Regions from separate parts of the Homo sapiens genome. Here region 2 is linked to region 1. A link means that fine-mapping ties the variant in region 1 to the expression of a gene that starts in the linked region. Tissue or cell type: esophagus muscle. Region 1 holds a variant in brackets; the other region holds the start of a gene. All regions are shown on one strand. Distances are from middle to middle.

What was found. PIP is the estimated chance that this variant, and not a neighbour inherited with it, causes the effect.
Region 2: it holds the start of UNC13B, and the variant in region 1 is fine-mapped to the expression of UNC13B in esophagus muscle (GTEx, PIP above 0.99).

What each region holds. Positions count from the first base shown.
Region 1 is chr9:35,334,301-35,342,403 of GRCh38, forward strand. All of the region lies in intron 11 of UNC13B (unc-13 homolog B), which reads left to right. Among named protein-coding and RNA genes, the nearest start is that of RUSC2, 150 kb to the right of the region's middle. RefSeq lists a silencer at 932-1,226. The variant C/T (reference allele first, on the strand shown) is at 3,389.
Region 2 is chr9:35,157,040-35,165,139 of GRCh38, forward strand. UNC13B (unc-13 homolog B) reads left to right here and starts at 4,970. Exons shown (of 40, transcript NM_001371189.2): 1 at 4,970-5,266. The coding sequence starts at 5,245. RefSeq lists an enhancer at 776-1,329 and a silencer at 4,836-4,965.

The DNA.
Region 1 (8,103 bases):
AGAAATTCAGATGTCTATTAAAAAATATGGGCCCAGGGGCTAAAGTTTAAGTTGCAGACTGTTTGACCTGCCTTTTGAAATGGTTAAAAACCTCTTCTGCTAAAGACGTCTTTTGGCCCAGCTTGGCTTATCAAGGTAAAAGGCCATGCAGATGTTTGAGTCTCAAGTCTTAGGAATTAAGAGTAGACATTCACCTGGAGTATCTTCTCTGCCTAATATCCCTAGTGCATGTAGGTAGAAAAACAGTTCAGGGAAGACCCCATTCCTGGCCACTTATTTTCTTATTATTTTGGCTTTCTACGTGTATTTTCCTTGCATACTTACAGGCTTTAAATCCTTTGCTAGATTGCTCTTGAGGTCAAGAACTGATCACCAATTCTTAGCATCAATTCCTCCTGATACTTAGTAAAAACTCAGCAAAGATTTATGGAATGAACACTTAAAAATATTAGGTGGCCGGGCGCGGTGGCTCACGCCTGTAATCCCAGCACTTTGGGAGGCTGAGGCGAGTGGATCACCTGAGGTCAGGAGTTCCAGACCAGCCTGGCCAACATGGCGAAACCCCCATCTCTACTAAAAGTACAAAAATTATCCGGGCTTGGTGGCGGGCACCTGTAATCCCAGCTACTCAGGAGGCTGAGAGAGGAGAATCACTTGAACCCGGGAGGTGGAGGTTGCAGTGAGCCGAGATCGCGCCACTGCATTCCAGCTGGGTGACAAGAGTGAGACTCCGTCTCAAAACAAATAAAAAATTAAAAAAATTAAGTGGTATTACACGGCCCTAAGTAACTGATTGCAAAAGAAATAATTAAGTCTTTTAACTGAAAATAGTTGCCACAGGACTTTAAGGAACAAGCCCTTTGGATTAGGGTGATCAGAGAAGTCTTCTCAGAGGAATTCCCAGAGAATACTAAGTTAGCAGTTAAGTATCAGGAAATGGCCAAGAAATAAAATAACATGAGCTTCTAAAGATGGAAATCAAGGGATAACTTGCTTCCTGTGTTTGCAAGCATATGCCATGGGGGAGATCCATGGCCTCTTGCAAGTGGCATGTTGCATTCTTCCTGTGGACAATGCAGCTGCTATTTACCACTATGCCCTGAAGTACAGTCATATTGTAAGACTTCAGTAAACTTCCTGAAGCCAAAGGGAAAGAGGTAAGTTGTAGCCCATTCTTTAAGCTGCTTCTTCTCTTTGCTGGTTGTCACCTTCAAGCATGCTAAGGAAATGTGTTTATTCAGTCCTCACCTGAGAACACTCAGACTTAAACAGCCAAAGAAGACAAGTTAGGAAGATCATTTTAGATGAAAACCAACCTCCTGGAGCATTTGTTAACGACAGATGAGATAAAACTGTTGACTGATTTCTCTCTAAAATATTCTTCCTTCTTGGCCTTTTTTTTTTTTTTTAAAGGGGTCTTGGTCTGTCACTCAAGCTGGAGTGCAGTGGCACAATCACGGCTCACTGTAACCTCGAACTCCTGGGCTCAGGCAGACCTCCTGCTTCAGCCTCCAAGTAGCTGGGATTAGAATAGCTAGGACTACAAGGATGTGCCACCAGACCTGGCTAATTTTTAAATTTTTCTTGTAGAGATGGGGGTCCCCCTATGTTGCCCAGGCTGGTCTTGAACTCCTGGCCTCAGTCCTTCTACTTCAGCCTCCATAAGTGGTGGGATTACAGGCCTGAGTCACTGCGCCTGGCCCCATCTTTGATTTCTTCATAGCATTTCTCTTTCTCTGCTTGCCCCTTAAAACTTGATAATTCCCAGGCTTTGTTTTCTACCTCATTTTCTTTTCTAGTTAATCTCATCCATGTCCTAACCTGTAACTGATAAATCCCAAATTACTATCTCTACCTCAGTCCTCTTTCATGAGTTCCAGACTTTTTTATCCAGCTTCCTGTGGATATTGTCACCTGAATGTTCATAGCCACTTCATACAATGTGTTCAAACCGTACTTACCATCTTTTTTTTCTCCTCCACTTCCTCTTCTATATATCCTTTCTTACTACCCCGTCAAACATAAAATCTAACACTCCTCTCCCTCAGAATATATAACATGGGTATAACAATGCCTCTTGCTTTAACATTTCCCCCGTTAGGTTATGAACTTCTTAAGGGCAAGGATTGTATCTTTTCATTACGCCTGTTAACAAGATGTTGTTACTTAATAGGTGTTCATTTATTTTTTGTTTTTTATTTATTTTATTTTTTCGAGAAAGAGTCTCGCTCTGTCACCCAGGTTGAAGTGCAGTGGTGTGATCATGGCTCACTGCTGCCTTGACGCCCTGGGCTTAGGATATCTTAGGTTATCTTCCCACCTCAGCTTCCCAAGTAGCTGGTGGAAGGGGCAAAAGAACTCCTGTGGGCCTCTTTTATAAAGGCACTAATCCCATTCATTAGGGCTCTGCCTTCATGATCTGTTCACCTCCCCAAAGGCTCACCTCCTAATGTCATCACCTTGAGGGTTAGGATTTTAACATATGAATTTTGGAGTGACACAGACGTTCAGGCAATTCAACCCATTACAGGTACCAAAGTAGTTTTTCATGTTTATTTACAAGTCTTATCTTCTGACAAAGCACTTGAAAAGGTTCCTACCTTCTCACCATCCTGATGTTTACTCTCTGATGGCACTCTACATAGGGCCATCTGGAAACAGAAAGGATGAGATGGCACATTAAGTGAGTGCAAGGGGTTTGCTTTGACTAAAGTTAGGGTGTTGGGAAGCCAAATTCCTCTAGACATGGGCAGGTCAAGAAAGAACTTTGATAACATGTAAAGAACTAGGACTTTTTTTTTTTTCACAGTCACTGACGGATTTTAAGAAAATGAGTGACAAAAACTTATGTACATCTTAGAAATATCCCCCTAGCAAATTGTGCATCACGGATCAAGGGTAAAGAGGAGTGAGTGGGAGGTGGTTCTGGAGGAATGGAGTCTAGGGAGAATGAATATTTTGCAGTAGTTGAAGTGAGAAATAAGCCTGGACTAAAGATTGCAGAGGAGACACTGATAGATAAGAAGGTAAAATAGATTATGGCAGAGGCACAAAGGGCTTTGCAGGGGCTTCTCTCACTGGGTAAAGAATTAGAATATATGGATTCCAATGATCCAGTATCTGAGCAGAGAAGTCATCTCTGCATGGGTTGATATGGGTGAGCTGGCAGCCTAGTCCTCTAAACACGTAGTTCTCTCTTCAGACTTACCTAGTTGAGTGCTTCCCTTTCTTTCCACCATGCTTCCCTCTTACTGTCAGAGATCCCCAGTGAAGGATACGCCTTCATTAAGTCTTCTTTTCCCCTTTGTACATTAGCTACCTTCCTGTAATTCAGTACCTCATATCAGATACTTTTGAATATTTGGAGAATCCTGTAGGGAAAAACCCA[C/T]CTCTTTGGGATCCCTTCATTGAATGTGAAGACACTTGAAACTCATCTGCTGGTTAGGGACATATTTCCACAAGACTATAGAAACAGGGGCCTAAGCCAGGAGAATTCTCCAGATTTGGGTTTGCCCTATATCTTATTCTTAGATGTATCTTAGAACAAGCCATAAAGAACTGAGGGGATATTTGATCAATATTAACCCAGTTAGTCTCCACTTAGTACAAGAGGTTCATTTCTCCCTGGGATGTCAAATTTTGGATTCCTTTTAGAGGATCCTCGGTATATGGCCTCTTTGTTTCCTTTGGGTATAGAGATTGAGGCAGGGCCAATGCACTCTGTGGCTTGGGCTGGGATATATATATAAACAAATACTACTTTAGGACCGGCATTAGTCCTAAATCTGGGAGCTGTGACTTTTGATCGGGTTTATGTGAGAGGGCAGTAGACATATAGGTTTCTTATGATCATGAATTGTTAATTATTTGGTCCTGAAATAGATAGGGGGCCACAGCCTTTGGAGGTACAGGCTGAAAACCTAACTGGTTAGCTGGCCAGTTCCAAGAAGTTTATCAGCTCCTTATGTTCAAGTTTCTGCTAATCAGGGATGGTCCTTGACCTGATTGTAGGACTAAGACTTGTCAGCAATTTATGACTCTTAGGGCCTGCCTTGCAGCTTGTCGGGTCTGTTTAGGTAACAAAGCAGCTATGTCTTAGTGCATCAGTAAAGTCAGCACATCTCTGCCAGGCTTGTCACTCCCCTAGGATGGCATGCTCCTCAGGGAAGGAGCAGGATTACCTCCTGCTGCCCGTCATTCTCTGCTGCATATGCTTTCTCCATGGTGTAGGGAGGGCATCATTCTACAGCGGGAAAAATGACTTTTCTTAGCCACCAGAAAAATCATCTTCCTCATGAAATAAATCCCAGCTGTGTGACTATATGTCAGCTTTTTCATGTTGCTTCTGGCTTTCCTCAGCAGTAGAGAAGGAAAACAGTCACAAGCTGACTCTTGCATGATATAGATATTGGCCGCACCCATCCTTTGTACTCTGCGTCTGTGTTGATATTGGACAATAAGGTAAGCACCTGCTGGTCCTGACCCAGCCTGTCTCTGGCATTGACACCTGAAAAGGCAGGCCAGGTTTGGAGCAGGCATATTCTTTGCTTCTAGACCAGTTGTATCTGACGTCAGGGAGACTTAGACTGGTTTGTATGAGTAGGGAGAATTGTGATTGGTGAGGCCCTCCTCCAGTATTTCTGTGACACCACTCAGTTGCTTTAGCTGAAGATGAATTTTGTATGCCAGGTGGTTTTCTGACTAACCCACCCATTCGGCTCCCCTTTAGAACTCCTGCAGGTCTGAACCTTCCCACAACTCTGCGTGAGTGTCAGTGTATCATGTTGAGTTTCCATCTTGACTCATCTGTCTCTAGGCGAAGATCCCTGCAAGGATTTAAATTGGGAACCAGACCTTGAGAATGTCTGTTCAGAGCATTTCACAGCTTCTGGATAAATGCCTTTTCCTTCTTAACCCAATCTGTTTTTCCAGTTCTGCCCAGCTAGCTCCTGAGCAGCCTACTTTGAGGAAGCTTCCCAACTGAGGTGGGTGCTGTGCTATTTCTTACCTCTAAAAAGCACCCCATCCTTTCGGCCTACTCAGGCTTCCCCAGGGCCAGATCCACTGTGATGAGGGGGCTGCATTGTTGCCCATGTGGCTCACAAAACAAATTGCCTGCTTGTCCCAAAGAGCTAGTCCACTGAGGAGTCCTGATGTCCTTTGGCCATGTGGTGTCTGGCACTCTGTGGGCCCTGTAGAACAGTGGCAGAAGGGGCCATGCTCTTTTACAAGAGCTTCCACTGACTGTTTGCCACTTCCCCACTTACTCTGTTTCTTGCTTTTGCTGGAACATGGGAAGGTGGATAGATACAAAGGTAATTTGTGGTCAAAGCTGCATGAGCTCTCCTGTGAAGTTTGAAGATTGTAACTGGAGATGGCAGATTTGTTGTGCCTCATGTGCTAACCACGTCTTCTACTGCCTGAGCCTTTGTTTTTCTGGAAAGCCCAAGCTGCTTAGAAAAATGGGCTGGATGTGTTTGGGTGACAAGACAGGGTGGGTTCCATTAGCCTCAGAAATGCCATCTGGAGGCCTTAGCCAGGCCTTAGGGCCACTTTGTCAATTAGGCAGGAAGAAGTAGGTTCTTTTAGCAGGGTCCTACCTCTGGGGAATCTTTCCCACTCTTGAAAGTTTGAGCTTCTCCTTAGCCTAGGAAGCCTGACCAAACCTGATAGTGACAGCCACTGTTCTGGGCTCTTTATGAGTGGCTGCAGATTTGGGGGAGGGAATTCTAATTTAATCAATCTTCCCTATATTTCTTGTTTTAAACCTTTTACCTCCTTCTCCTGGCTGAAGGATGGGAAACTCCACAGTAAATTGGCTGTGACTTCCACAGAAACTTGACAGTTTTCAAGTTATTTTTTTCCTCTGTGTTTAGATGCGGTTATAGTTGTGCTGTCAGGCCTTATCTCTTCTGTCATCTAGCCAGCTCCCAACTAGGTTAGGAGGTATGTGCTCTGCTGTTAGTGTTGGCTGTGTAATGAGGTGGATGGCTAAGAAATGGGTTGTTTAGCATCTCTTGGAATCTAAATTTTCTTCCTTGGTTGAGGGGGAAGCAATGTTATTGGAAGAAGGCAGTAGGGAGGCACATGTTGGCTCTGAAATCAACCCTTTCTTCTCAGGATCTTGGATAAGCCAAACAAATCATTCTTAATTTAAATGCTTGTTTTATCTACCATAAAGGGCTGCCTGTTCTGCAATGGCAGATCCTAGGATGGTCCCCATAGACTGACTACCTGGTTTGTGGGCTAAAGAGGCCATACTCTGTTGTGGATTGCCATGAGGAATGTTGCAGGGCAGCAGAAGTCACAAGGTTTGAGAGCCTGGTTTGGGCATGCTGGGTAAATCAAACTTGCCCACGTACTGTTGGCCTAAGGAGGAAGAGGGCCTTTTCTCTTAAGATCAAGCTCAGGGGAGTCAGAAGAGGAATGACTTCACTGGATTGTTACTGGCTGATCGAGCTCTATATTGAGAAGGATTCTGAGGTTATCTAGGTTCATTATGCGATGTTTTTCATGTCCTATGGTTGCAGAGTGGAAAGGGGATATCACATTTCATGTATTTGGCATTTTATGCTACAGAGCTTCAAGGGGTCCTGGCTTGTGCTCGGACATTATGTTGCAGTGAACAACTTGAGTGTTCTTTGAAGATAAGGACATTCAATTTCCCAGTGAGTCCTAACTAGAATTGTTGAATTATTAGGAATTAGGGTCACATGAGAGCCACCTGGCTAGTGAGTCTCCAGGGAGATAGGGCATCCATTGGCAAAGAAGGGTTATGAAATTTGGGGTCATAAAAGGGGCCCTGAACCTTAGGCAGCTTTTTGGTCATGGTGATATCACTTTAGGTTACTTCGTTCCTAATTCTGGATTCTGAAACCATCTTTGGTCTAGACTTCTGCAATACAGAGTTCATCTCAGCTCACCTAACTTCCCCTCCTTCTCTCGGGTTGTTGCTTTGGCATAGCCTGAGGGAGCTCTTATTTTCCAGTTGATTCTCTTGTGGTGGTTGTTCAGTAAGAACTGGAATAGATGTCTACTCCAAGAACATGGCACTGTTTGATTTTAACTGCACTTGATCACTGTACCTATCCTTCAGCTTTGCCAAATGCTGACAACAGATTATATATACACGAAACCAACCAACCAACCAACTTAGAGCTTGTCTCAGTAGAAGGGAAGACTCCCTTTGTATTGTGCTCCAGCAGTTCCACGGCTGGCATGCTGTGTTCCGGCTTCCCTCTGAGACTAGGAGCTCCTGAAAGTATAGGTCTCCATCTGTGTCTGTTTATATCCTATAGCCCAGATGTGAGAGAGGTGGATAGGGGAAAAGAAAGCAGGGAGGAGAAGAACGAGGGAAGGAAATGGAGGAGGGGAGAGAGTAAGATCTATATTTAGCAAAAGGGAGAGACACTTACCAAGGGTGTGTGAGTGAGCTTGCTGGCAAGGGTTGTGTGTGCGTGAGTGTGCTGGGAAGGGGGTGTGTGCGCCAGGAACGTGTGAGGAGGGCTGGTGCCCTATGGGAGGTTGCAGGCAGGAAGCAGCTGGAGAGGAGGAGGAGCAGCAGCAGGAGCAGGAGCTGCCCTGCTTTCTGCCTCAGTCTCAAAGCCCAGAATCGATTGAGTTAGAATTCCACATCCAGTTGAAGTTTGGCTGCTGTTGCCTTCAGCAGGCTGATCTCAGAATCCCCCTTGCCAGAGAGGTGTGGACCAGGTTAGATTTCTACGTTTGCAGCCAGTGAGACTCCTGCCAAGCCCTTCACTGAGGGGTTTTTTTGCAGGGCATTGTTTCTGTCATCAACTTTGTGCCGTGGAGCCAGCCAGCTGGGTGCAACTGAGAATATTAGCTCCTTGGGTCTGTTTGTCGGTTGGGCAAGCAGTGGTGCTTTGGCTCAGAAAGTTCGTCCTGTGGCTTCTCTGTCAAACCAAGGAGTGCTCCTGGATGGATTTCCTCTTAAAGACAGCATTTGCCTTCTAAAACTTGAGAATTCATGGTTTTAATTTTTTTTTTTAATTTCCTTAACCCTTATTTTGGTTGCAGCAGCAAGGTAAGTGGTACCGAGTGTGTATGACTGACTGAACAACAAGCAGGGCAAAAGGAAAGCAT
Region 2 (8,100 bases), 180 kb before region 1:
GGAAATATTTGTCATCTATTTTCTCTAAGGGCAGCCACTATAAGACTTCAAAAGAACCTTGGTCTCCACAGTGTTTTTTCTTAACCTAAATATTTCCTTTCTATGATCCCTGGTCTTTAGACAAACTCAACCAATTTTCAACCAGAAAATGTTTAAATTTACCTATAGTCTGGAAGCCCCCCTTTGAGTTGTTCCGTCTTTCTGGACCAAACCAATGTATTTCTTAAATGTATTTGATTGATGTCTCATGCCTCCCAAAAATTTATAAAACCAAGCTGCACCCCAACTACCTGGGGCTCATGTTCTCAAGACCTCCTGAGGGCTGTGTCATGGGCCATGGTTACTCATATTTGGCTTAGAATAAATCTCTTCAAATATTTTACAGAGTTTGATTTTTTTCATCAACATTAGTAAAGATTTTACTTAAGTTATGTAAACTTGAAAAAGCATTTGACTATTTTATTTTTTCCTGAATAAGTGTTTGATTTAAGCACTTTTATTTTCTTACGCCAATTAATTAGAGCTCTTTTATATATTTTCAGTAGTGAAACATTGTGTACACAACACATAAATACATAGACACATTAGGCATGCTGATAGAGGTACATCTTTTTTTTTTTTTTTTTGAGACAGAGTTTTTCTCTTGTCACCCAGGCTGGAGTGCAATGGCATGATCTCAGCTCACTGCAACTTCTACCCGCTGGGTTCAAGTGATACTTCTGCTTCGGCCTCCCGAGTAGCTGGGACTACAGGCATGTGCCACCACGCCTGGCTATTTTTGTATTTTTAGTAGAGACAGGTTTCACCATGTTGTCCAGGCTGGTCTCGAACTCTTGACCTTAGGTGATCTGCCCACCTCGGCCTCCCAGAGTGTTGGGATTACAGGCGTGAACCACTGCACCTGGCCTAGAGGTACCTCTTATAGATTCATAAAAAACGTTTTTTTTCCTTAGGCTTTCAGATTCTTTTTTTCCCCTCCTCCCTCCCCGCTACTTTCAGATTCTTGATAACCTGTTTCACAACCCTAGGCAGTTGTCAGCTAAATAGCCTTAAATTTGCATATTAAAGAAAACAACTCAGGTGAACTCCAAACAGCAAAATTTACATTATAAAGTGTGGAGAGAAAAAGTCTGGTGTGCTAGACGGAAATTGAAACAGATTTAATGGCCAATTAAACATAAAATTATAGAAATTATAAAAGCCTTTTAAATACACACACACACACATCCTATAGCTTTTACTTCAGAACTTTTAGCTATGAGATAAATTCAAATTTACCGGTTTGCAAAAAGAACTTGTTGGATCTAAACTGTGGTTTTTATCTTAACAGAAAATAATGGCAGATTTAGAGCAGGCAGAAAAGAATAGAGAAAAGAGGTCTTAGGAACTCTATAATTAGTAGGTCGACCTTAGGGCTCTTTTTTCTTAATGTAAATGTGCACAAAGACCATATTTTTTCCATTTTACATAAACTTTGGCAGTAGAGGTGCCATAAAACCTACAGAGTGCTCAAAAGAGGGTCATTCTCCTTGTTTTCTTCTCATTCTTAGATTATTTGTTTTCCACTTCTTTTTTTCTTAAAAGGAGAAACTGAGCTGTGGCTTAGAGTTTCTGTGTGGTGGATCATCACGTGCTGCTTGTGGGCAGGACTCCACAATGTGCCACCACTGAATGGTTTCCACCCTCTTACATGTCTCAGTTTCTCTCTCCAGAGGTTTATGACTTCTGAGAGGGCTCACAACACTGGGTGATCAGCCCTTCAATGTGTTTCCTGGATGAGCCAGTTTTTAAATTAAATATATATATATATATTTTTTTGAGACAAGGTCTTACTCTGTTGCCCCGGCTGGAGTGCAGTGGCATAATCTTGGTTCACTGCAACCTCCACTTTCTGGGTTCGGGCAATTCTTACGTCTCAGTCTCCTAAGCAACTGGGGTTACAGGCACGCACCACTACACCTGGCTAATTTTTGTATTATTAGTAGAGATGCGGTTTTGCTATGTTTGTCAGGCTTGGTCTTGAACTCATGACCTCAAGTGATCTGCCTGCCTCGGCCTCCTGAAATGCTAGGATTATGTGTGTGTGACCGCACCTGGCCTAAATTAATTTTTGTTGGGGATTTCCCTGCAGGACCACTGCACATCGTTCGGGGTCAACCTTTCAGACACTCCCACAAGGTCCCCAGTCACTCAGGGGCACCTTTCAGTTGGGAGGGGCAAATGCCCTTTCTTTTTGGAGCTGAGAAAACTCAGTCTCTGATATACCTATGAAAGCAACAGTTCAGTTCCTCATGCAAATGCACACAGACAAACGGAATTGAGATTAATGTTGGGAGAAAAAGCAATATAAAGGATCCTTCAGAACGGATCTCCAAACTAGAATTAGGATTTTTTTTTTTTTTTGAGATGGAGTCTCGCTCTGTCGCCCAGGCTGAGTGCAGTGGCACGATCTCGGCACAGTGCAACTTCCACCTCCCTGGTTCAAGCAATTGCCCTACCTCAGCCTTCGAATAGCTGGGATTACAGGTGCACACCACCAGGCCCGGCTAATCTTGAACTTGTGGGGTCAAGTGGTCCGCCCGCCTCAGCCTCCCAAAGTGCTGGGATTACAGGTGTGAACCACCGCACCTGGCCTAGAATTAGGATTCTTAAACAACGACTTCCTAGGAGAGAAAATTAAAAAAAAAAAAAAAAAAAAAAAAGGAAACAGCCAAAACCACTTCCTATAAACTGTGCTCAGCCACCCGTAACTTTGTAGCTCTTTTCCAACAATATACACACCAAGGTCAAATCCTCTCACAGTGCAAGGTCATCTCTGGCACCCAAAGCCAAAAAGGTCAGGTCATGCAATACAGGAAAACAGAGCTTTAGACCTAAGAAGAATCTGCCCATGACTCTTGAAATCCCACAAAGCCAAGAGAACACCCCAAAAGGGGGTGAGTGGCACCTTTGTTCTAAATTCTTTTTTTTTTTTTGAGATAGAGTCTTGCCCTGTCACCCAGGCTGGAGTGCAATGGCACGATCTCAGCTCACTGCAACCTCCGCCTCCCAGGTTCAAGTGATTCTCCTGCCTCTGCCTCCTGAGTAGCTGGGATTACAGGCACGTGCCACCATGCCTGGCTAACTTTTTTTGTATCTTTAGTCGAGACAGGGTTTCATCATGTTGGCGAGGCTGAGTCTCGAACTCCTGACCTCGTGATCCGCCCACCTCGGCCTCCCAAAGTGCTGGGATTACAGGCGTGAACCATGGCGCCCGGCCTAAATTCTTTAAAGAGGTTCAAGTCATTAGAAGCCTTCTCTCGATTTTTTGGTAATGCAGATGGCAAAGGGTGAAGGAGGTATAGGGTGGAAGAAAAGTAAACAAAAGAACAATTGAATTTTTTTTTTTTTTTTTTTTAATTTGAGACAGAGTCTCACACTGTAGCTCAGGCTGGAGTGCAATGGCTCGATCTCCACTCACTGCAACCTGCGCCTCCTGGTTCAAGCAATTCTCCTGCCTCAGCCTCCCGAGTAGCTGGGATTACAGGCACCCGCCACCATGCCCGGCTAATTTTTTTTGTATTTTCAGTAGAGACAGGGTTTCACTATGTTGGCCAGGCTGGCCTTGAACTCCTGACCTCGTGATCCGCCCGCCTCGGCCTCCCAAAGTGCTAGGATTACAGGTGTGAGCCACCGCGCCCGGCCTAAGAACAGTTTAATTTTTAAGACCAGGAAGCAAACACAGAAACCAAATACATGGTTTTTTGTTTTCTGTTTGTTTTTTCTTTTGCAGCTGTGAGGAATTTTACTCAAATTAGATAGGCCTTGTTACCCATAATTTGGAATTCTCACTTGGATTTGACCAAGTGAAGTAGAGTTGGTCAATGGGAAAAAGACAAACAAAATAAAAAAAAACCCAACAATATGATCACTGAGCACTCTAATGGTAAGCAGAAATTAAGACCAGCTGGTTGTTAACTTTAGCCAAGACAAAAATCCCTATTCAGCTACTTACCTAGGGGTGCGTCTCAGGCTGAAAACGGCTGTCTACCATCCCAGAAGTAGGAAAAAAACCCCTCATCTTCCCTGTTGGAAGTGAGCTCAAACTCCATAAAAGAGTTACCTGCCTTCCCTCGTCATGGAAGCAGGAAAACTTGCCTTCCTTGTTGGAAGCAAGTAAAACTCCAAAATAATAATAATAATAATAATAATAATAATAATAATAGAGGGAGTTGTACAACAAAATGAACTTTAGATCTCGACCAAATTTTGGGAGATCAGGGATTCTCTGGAGGGGGTGCTCCTAGACCTTAGCAAATTGTCCTGTTGGTTTGAGCCATGGAGTTAGCTCATGTTGGTACCAAGCATGGATAGGAGATTTGTCAAAGATCAGAGGTATCTCCACTCACAATCCCTCCGTGGTTACCATCCTTCATTCAGTAAATATTTACGGACTGATTACCATACACTAGGCACTATTCCAGACATTGGAGATACAATGATGAGCATAAAAAACGGTCTAGATAAGAACTGAGGTCTCCAGACATACTTTATGCCCACTCAGTTTTGTCTTTTGCCCTAGTTGCTAAACAAAACTTAACTTTGCTGTGCGGTGCGACTTCGTTAACTTAAAATTACAGGCTGTCAGCTATGACCGCTAGACTCTAAGAAAGTCCAGTGGAAATCCTTCAATGAAAAGAATCTGTTCTTGGGTGGAAGCCCCGCTCATGCAGGAGGAACAGAGGGCTTCCATTCTCGCGTCACACAACTGAGGGTCAACCCCTTGCTCCCTGCAGTAAGCCTGATTAGTGGGCGGAGCTTCCTTCAGGATCGCAAGAAAGAAAGGAGGAAGGGGACCCCGCCTCCTACGTGCTCGCGGGGGGGGGCGGGGTCGGTGGACTGGGCGTGAGTTAATTGGCTGGGGGGCGGGGCACCACGGGTTGGCTCCGCCCAGGCGCTCGCGCGGATCCCGGGTGGAATGACGGGAGGGAGTCCCGGCAGCTCCTACCTCCCAGCGATGGCGTCGCTGTGCCGCGCCCAGTCCCCAGCCTGCCGGCCGGTACTCACCGCTACCCGGAGTTCGCTCAGACGGTGAGATTTGGGGCGGGTCCGAGGCAGCGGCGGGACGCTACCTGCGACCGGGACCATGAGGAGCTGCCAGACCCGTGGGGCCGGTAACGAGAGCAGTCGCGGCACCTGCTGAGAGGAAAGAGGGAGCGGTCCGGCGCGGCTGGGGCGCGGCAGAGGCTTGCCCGATCCTCGGCCATGTCACTGCTCTGCGTGCGCGGTGAGTGCGCGGACTGAGGCGGGGAGGCGGGGTGTCGGCGTAGAGGTCCCCGCACCCTTCCAGTGGACGTCCGGTGACCGTCTCACCCAAACTTTACATCCCGTCCGTGCTTTGGGGGTCTATTATTTTGGCAATCACTTAACAATCACTTGAGTTCTTTCCACTTTCTTGTTTTCCCCCAAGCTCCTGCAAGGGACGATTAGCTCTCCATTCTGGTAGCCATGTGACAATGTTGTTGGACTGCAGGCTCAGATCCTATTAAACAGTGACTGGGGTTCTCTAGTGAGAGTGGACGAGTTAGAAGACCGCGGATGGTTGGTGCCTGTGAATGGTGGGCAGCCTCTCATTCTTTTCCTCCTCCTCGCACCGTAACGCTACAGTATGCTTAGTAGCAGGTTCTTTTTATCACACTTTGAATGCGTTAGTGGTACAGCTGTCACATCCCTTCTATTGCTTGTCTTGTCCCCTGCCACTTCCCTGAACACTAACCGGTAGTATAGGCTAAGATTATTCTTCTGTTCCACTTGGGAGGATGTGGTGACTGCTTTTGAGGATAAGAGGTATGATTTATTTTTATTTTTATTTTAGCTTGCCTCACAGTAACTCAAGGTGAAGGGCCATTATTGCTTTTCCCCTGAGGACACTTGACCCATCTAAGAAGATATCTTAAAGCAAGAGCTTTGGGGTTTAAGATGAGGCATGGTACGCGAACTAAGTTCTATGTGGGTAGAGACTGTTTCTTATTAGTTTTTGTATTCCTGGTGTCTGACGTAGTAGAAGCTTAATGCTGGTTTTGAATGAATGCAAGTACTGTGACTTCAGAGAGATTATCTGATCAGGAAAACACAGGGTTTGGATTAGCCATTGAATTTGATCTCGGGAAATTCAGGTTACAGCCTATCATATCTGATGTGTCTTGATTATGAATGAGAGAGCATTTATCAACTAGAGCCTTTACCTGATATCTTTTACTGGAGAGTTCATATTTCTTTTGGCTCTACAGATTAGAAGCATTGTTGTTGTTTGTGATTTCTCCAATAACGATGTTTCCCCCAGCTACTGGCAGATGAAACTGCTTTGCTCTGTTCTCTTCCACTATTTTGTTGAATCTGCATTAACCAAAATGGATTTGGCCATTTCCCGGGATTATGAGATATACAGTTTTTCTTCTTTCATGGTTGATTTTTCATTAATGAGAATTTTGCTTTGCTTTTAGTAAGACATTTTCTCTCAGCAGCTGGGAATCTATTTATTCCTTTAGATCCCTGCTGCTGAGTAGCAGGATTTGGGAGAGGTTGGACTTTGCTGTGTCTCTTGGACAGTTTAATTCTCTACGGCCACACTGTATTACAGAGCTGGTCCTTATGAAAGACTCTTTAGGCAGGAGCACTCGTGAATCAGAAATTCCTATTTAACTGAATTTATATAACTACTGGTGTTTTCATTTGTTTTAATAGCAGGCAGGTTTCATTGTCTAGAAATTCTGCTATTTAGCTAACTTCTTTCCTTTTTAATGTTACTTTAGTGAAGTTTCTTCTTTTTTGAATCTGGAGAAACGAGATCAGCAGGCCATTGTCTTTTTGAATAGAGATCTAGAAGATTTTAAATACTGAAACAAACAGGTACCTTATATGCAGATATTCATATTGAATGGCAAAGTATTCATTTTGGGAAAACTTACAGAAATGAATTGAAATACATCTTTATTTTTATTTCTTTTTCTTTTTTTGAGACAGAGTCTCATTCTGTCACCCAGGCTGGAGTGCAGTGCTGCGATCTTGGCTCACTGCAACCTCCACCTCCTGGGTTCAAGTGATTCTCATGCCTCAGCCTCCCGAGCAGCTGGAATTACAGGAGTGAACCACCAGGCCCGGCTAATTTTTGTATTTTTTGTAGAGACAGAGTTTCACTGTGTTGGCTAGGCTGGTCTTGAACTTCTGACCTCAAGTGATCCATCTGCCTTGGCCTTCCAAAGTGCTGGGATTAGAGGCATAATCCACTGCACCCAGCACAAAATACATCTTTCTAAAATGACATTCCTTGCGTTGTATTTTGGCAGTAGGAATGTTGTATTCTGAAAGCAGTCTATATAGTGATATTTATTACAACTCAATTTCAATTCATCTTGGAGTAGAATCAATTAGAAACTTCCTATGCAGAGTTCAAAAAGTAGTTAACTTGATGTAGAAATTGGCAAACTGGTATTGAATTAATCATTCCTAAACATTTCATTCAAGAAGTCAGTTATTTTGTCTTGCCCTTTAATCATGCCTTATTGCCTGCAGGTTTAAGGCTCTCAATACTCTGACTCCAGACTTGTGGCCTTCTATTCTTGCCTATCCTTATGCAGACTTTGCTCTAGCACTAACTTTGTTTATTCCTGCCTCTGCTCTGTTCTGCACTTGTGCCCCCTGAAATACTCGTTCCATATTTTCTGCCTATCTAAAATGTATTCTTACTTTCCCAGCTAACAGTCTACTTTTTTTGTTGTTGAAAACTTCTTCAGGTCCCCAGTCCACAGTGATCTCTTTTTCCTTTAAATCCTCGGAGCACTTGTGGTCTGAACAGTGCCACTAGTTTGGAAATGAATCATATGCTGCCTGCAACTGGTCTTGTATTGTGGTGCTTATGGTGACCCAGACAAAGGAAGTAATTGCACTGGTCAGATCAGATCTGGAATTTTGTGTTCAGCTGTGGTATTTCCTTCTAAGAAGCATATTGAGAAGCTAGGTTATCTTAAGAGGGGAGTGATTAGAATAATGAAACATGTAGGAACCGAACCATTTGAAGAATATGGGAAATTTAGTTGTAGAAGATTTAAGAGGAAGAGGATC